Linked DNA regions of Homo sapiens: region 2 is linked to region 1. The links come from fine-mapping of genetic effects on gene expression. A gene starts in region 1. The other region holds a variant in brackets. All regions are shown on one strand. Distances are from middle to middle.

Evidence for each region. PIP is the estimated chance that this variant, and not a neighbour inherited with it, causes the effect.
Region 2: its variant is the best candidate, but not a certain one, in a credible set for the expression of OCIAD1 in whole blood (INTERVAL, PIP 0.87).

Annotation. Positions count from the first base shown.
Region 1 is chr4:48,829,761-48,832,679 of GRCh38, reverse strand. It overlaps OCIAD1 (OCIA domain containing 1), which reads right to left and starts at 1,592. Exons shown (of 9, transcript NM_017830.4): 1 at 1,431-1,592; 2 at 1-60. The coding sequence starts at 55. RefSeq lists enhancers at 676-1,238, 1,239-1,802, 1,645-2,024.
Region 2 is chr4:48,863,220-48,866,138 of GRCh38, reverse strand. No RefSeq gene overlaps it. Among named protein-coding and RNA genes, the nearest start is that of OCIAD1-AS1, 4.5 kb to the right of the region's middle. The variant G/A (reference allele first, on the strand shown) is at 1,414.

The DNA of each region.
Region 1 (2,919 bases):
GAATTGGTCTTGGAACCTCTGCATTCGGCTCTCGAAAATCAGCCCTCCCATTCATCTTTCCTGTATCAAAAACATTACATATTAAGTATTAGAAACTATCACTAGATAGGTCAAAGTAAATCAAGACGTATGATATAGTAAAACTACTAGTCTACACAGCAATCAATCAACAAATATTTATTAAACACTACTATATCTTACGTACTCCACATGTAAATAGCTAGATGAAAAAGTAACAGACCTACTGATTAATTTGGAACTCACTATTCAGGTTAAGTCCCTTAATTGAAAAAGCATATGCGTTTTATAAGTTTATAATTTTTTTTACTATCAAGATATCAATAAAATAACAGACATATTTTTTCCTCCTGGAAGTGGGTTCTTTCACATCCTATGTTTTGGTCGTTTCTCGAATCTATGCCCAATGATTAGGATAATTCCCCAAAATAGAAGAGAAAAAAAATTTCAAGTCATTTCTGAGCTTCCATATTAAAAAATGAAATAATCATCAGAAACATTCAACCTCTCCCACAAAGGAGCACTCCAAAATTATGGAATAACAAAGACGACATATCCTTCTCCCTGTGAGGTAAAACTAACAGCAAATTCTGTATCTCCAAATTTCCTTCCACCCCAAGAATATAAGAAAAAAATGCATAAAATTCCAAGAATATACATTTTTTATTTGGTTCTTTTTTTAAAAACTCATATATTGGGACTCAGACCAACAGATCAAGTAACCGTATTTTACAGAACGTTTACGTGGGATCATGATTATTCTCATTTTAAAAACAATTTGCATGGAAACAGGAAATGGCATACACAATGAGGACAGCAACTGAGCCCTTCCATAATTCATTCAGTCAATAAGCCATGAAGGCCTACTACATGCCAACCCCTTAATTAGAGAAAAGAAATAAAAAAGGTCAGCTGAATTCATGGATGGATGGAGCCTGCTGAATAAACTACCTTTACCCTACAACCGTATGAGAAAAAATGAAACCCTCTTATTTCCCATAACGGCATCCTTCCTAGAAACACCAGGAAGACTGTCAGGGCTGACACGGCGCTTAAGACAATACCATTTTAAGTTCTTTACACAAAACAACGCTGGATTAAAGCCTAAGCGGCCTACAACCGCTGATTACCGCACTCCATCCTCCACCCAGTGTCCGTCTCCCACCTGCCGTTACAGACTGAGCAGCAACCCCACACGCATCCGTGACCACGAACTTCCCCAGCTCACACCCCCAGAAGCACTCCGTCGCCTCCCGCAGTCACCGGCACTCAGGAGGCCGAGACCCGAGCGCGATCTGTCCACCCTCACAGGCAGGAAAATGGCGGAAGGTGCGAAAGTCGTGGATGGCCGCAAAGGTGGTGAGGGGATACGCGGAGGGCAACAACGGGGCTGTTTGCGTCACCTCACCCACCTCCCGACGACAGCAGCAGGCGACTGCAAGGAAAACCAAGCGATCAGGGGCAGAAGGCCCGGAGGGTGGACTCGAGAGGGGGCAGGGAGGGAGAAAAGTGCAAGGTACCGCGGGGAGGGGGAGGGGTAGAACAGCCGCAAGAAGTCATCCAGACAGGGGCTCAAAATGACCGCGACCCGGAGGCACTGTATACTTACGGCAGGAAATGACGTCAGACCTCACTGCGGGTCTGAGAGCCAGCAGCCTAGGAATAGACGCATGCGTATACTCGTCCCTTTGCCCTTTCAGGCAGCTGCGGCCACGAGCCGCACTGCGACTGCGCAGGCGACAGCGGCGGACCAAGAACCCTGCCCCGCCCCTTCCCTGGATGGCGGGGAAGGGGGTTGGGAGTAGGCTTGACTTTGGGCTGTTGTGATGCACCTCTCTGGTCTTCTCGTGGCGGCTGGCGGGAACGTTCCGGAACCCTCTGTTGTCCCTCTTTTGAGAGCGACTTTATAAATTATCTCTTTTATGAGATAATTTCATTCTTTGAGCCTGTAGGCTAAGTAGTAGAAAGTAATTTTTAAGCATGCATACCTGGTTATTTGTCACACCCTCTTGATCCAAGTTTCCAACAAGTTCTACAACCTCTGGCAGGGTACCGTGATCTCTCTGAGGCTACGGTTTTTCTCACCTGAAAAGTGGAATTACATATAGGGTTGTTAGAATTAAAACAACACATCACTGTCTATTAATGAGGGGGCTCACGACTTCTACACATCAGACATGGTGCTGCCACACCCAGCCAATCAGCATTTTACTCATTTTCATACATTCCTTCCTGAAGTATTTATTAGTGCCATGTACTGCAAGTTATTAGTGACTAAACAGTGGGCAAATCCAGTCCTACTATTTGTCAACCCCTCAAAGCCTCTCAGGTTTCTCATCTCTTTCTGAGCCCCTTTGCCACTTTATCATTTAACATTTATTCTCCCGAAGACATACTTAAGGGAGACAGTCACGTGAAACGAATCCAACGCTGTGTTTCCTTCCTTGGAGTCTTTTGATAGCTCCAGTCATGCACCGAATATAAGGCCCATCATGGCCTGGTGGTGCCTGTGCCTTTTGAGCGTCACTTTCTTCTATTTCAGGGTTCACTAACAAGAAACAGCCTGGAGGTCTTTGCCCTCAGTGTTCTCTGTGCACTGTTTCCCCAGTACAACTCTACTCCCTGCTTTGTCAATTCTAACGATATTTCAAAATTCTGCTTTTACATCACCACCTTTGTGATGCCTTCCCTGAAATACACCCCAGAGAAGTAATCACTCTTCCTTCTTAGTCCTTAGCTTGTCCATACTGCTGTCACTGCAATGTACTTTTGCACTGAATAGTGATCTTTTTTACTTACGTCTGTCTCTGTTACAGAGCTCCTTTAGGACAGAGATGTTGGCTTGTAAGTCTTTATAGAACCAAATAAATCCCTGAGATAATCAGTATTAGTAACTAATAC
Region 2 (2,919 bases), 33 kb before region 1:
AACCTCATCAAGTTACCAATGACTTTCTTCACAGAATTGGAAAAAACTACTTTAAAGTTCATATGGAACCAAAAAAGAGCCCACATCACCAAGTCAATCTAAGCCAAAAGAACAAAGCTGGAGGCATCATGCTACCTGACTTCAAACTATACTACAAGGCTACAGTAACCAAAATAGCATGGTACCGGTACCAAAACAGAGATATAGACCAACGGAACAGAACAGAGCCCTCAGAAATAATGCCACATATCTACAACCATCTGATCTTTGACAAACCTGACAAAAACAAGAAATGGGGAAAGGATTCCCTATTTAATAAATGGTGCTGGGAAAACTGGCTAGCCATATGTAGAAAGCTGAAACTGGATCCCTTCCTTACACCTTATAGAAAAATTAATTCAAGATGGATTAAAGACTTAAATGTTTGATGTAAAACCATAAAAACCCTAGAAGAAAACCTAGGCAATACCATTCAGGACATAGGCATGGGCAAGGACTTCATGTCTAAAACACCAAAAGCAATGGCAACAAAAGCCAAAATTGACAAATGGGATCTAATTAAACTAAAGAGCTTCTGCACAGCAAAAGAAACTACCATCAGAGTGAACAGGCAACCTACAGAATGGGACAAAATTTTTGCAACCTACTCATCTGACAAAGGGCTAATATCCAGAATCTACAATGAACTCAAGCAAATTTACAAGAAAAAAACAAACAACCCCATCAAAAAGTGGGTGAAAGATATGAACAGACACTTCTCAAAAGAGGACATTTATGCAGCCAAAAAACACATGAAAAAATGCTCATCATCACTGACCATCAGAGAAATGCAAATCAAAACCACAATGAGATACCATCTCACACCAGTTAGAATGGCTATCATTAAAAAGTCAGGAAACAACAGGGGCTGGAGAGGATGTGGAGAAATAGGAAAACTTTTACACTGTTGGTGGGACTGTAAACTAGTTCAACCATTGTGGAAGTCAGTGTGGTGTTTCCTCAGGGATCTAGAACTAGAAATACCATTTGACCCAGCCATCCCATTACTGGGTATATATCCAAAGGATTCTAAAGCATGCTGCTATAAAGACACATGCACGCGTATGTTTATAGTGGCACTATTTACAATAGCAAAGACTTGGAACCAACCTAAATGTCCAACAATAGACTGGATTAAGAAAATGTGGCACATATACACCATGGAATACTATGCAGCCATAAAAAATGATGAGTTCATGTCCTTTGTAGGGACATGGATGAAACTGGAAACCATCATTCTCTGCAAACTATTGCAAGGACAAAAAACCAAACACCGCATGTTCTCGCTCATAGGTGGGAATTGAACAATGAGAACACTTGGACACAGGAAGGGGAACCTCACACTCTGGGGACTGTTGTGGAGTGGGGGAAGGG[G/A]GAGGGATAGTATTAGGAGATATACCTAATGCTAAATGATGAGTTAATGGGTGCAGCACACCAACATGGCACATGTATACATATGTAACAAACCTGCACGTTGTGCACATATACCGTAAAACTTAAAAGTATAATAATAATAAAATTAAAAAAATAAATAATAATAACAATAGGCCAGGTGCAGTGGCCCGTATCTGTAATCCAAGCACTTTAGGAGGCCAAGGTCGCCAAATCACTTGAGCTTAGGAGTTTGAGACCAGCCTGGGCAACATAGCAAGGCCCTGTTTCAATAAAAAGAAGAAAAAAAGAACAAAATAGTAATATTATTATAATAAATGGGCAAAAGCTCTGAATAGACATTTCTCAAAAGAAGACATACAGATGGCAAATAGGTATATGAAAAAGAGCTCAACATTATTATCAGAGAAGTGCACATCAGAACTATTATGAGATATCATCTCATGTCAGTTAAAATGGCTTTTATCCAAAAGACAGGCAATAAGAAATGCTGGTGAGGATATGGAGAAAAGGGAATCTTCATACACTGTTGGTGGGAATGCAAATTATTACAACTATGATGGAGAAGAGTTTGGAAGTTCCTCGAAAAACTAAAAAAAAAAGAGCTATCATATAATCCAGCAGTCCCACTGCTAGGTATACACCCAAAAGAAAAGAAATCAGTATATCAGAGATATCTGCACTCTAATGTTTACTGTAACACTATTCACAATAGCCAAGATTTGGAAACAACCTAAGTGTCCCACAAACAGATGAATGGATAAAGAAAATGTGGTACATGTACTCAATGGAGTACTACTCAGTCTTAAAAAAGGATGAGATCCTATCACTTGCAACAACATGGATGGAACTGGAGTTCATTATGTTAAATGAAATAAGCCAGGCACTGAAAGACAAATTTCACGTTCTCATTTATTTATGGGAGCTAAAATTTAAAATAATTGAAGTCACGGTGATAGACAGTAGGATGGTTACGAGGGGCTGGGAAGGGTAGTGAGTTGCAAGTGGGACAGGCAGGTGCAGTGGGTCTATGGTTAATGGGTACAAAAAAATAGAGTAAGACCTAGTATTTGCTAGCACAACAGGGTGACTATAGTCTAAAATAATTATATATTTTAAAACAACTAAAAGAGTATAATTGGATCATTTGTTACACAAAGGATAAATGCTTGAGGGGATGAATATCCCATTTATCCTGATGTGATTACACATTGCATGCCTGTATCAAAATATTTCATGTAACCCATATATATTCGTGTGTACCCCCCAAAATAATAATTTTAAAATAGAAATTTTGTACCTGGAAGTGAGGTCCTGCCACAACAAGAACCTAAGACATATGGCATTCACTTTGGGACCAAGTAGCAGATGGATGCTGCCAGGATCATGAAGAGATTGCTAGTTAAATCCTAAAGGGCCTCGAGGAAGGCATTAGCAGAAGCCCAAAGGGCTTCCAAGGAGGATGTCAGAGGGAGGAAAATGTTATTG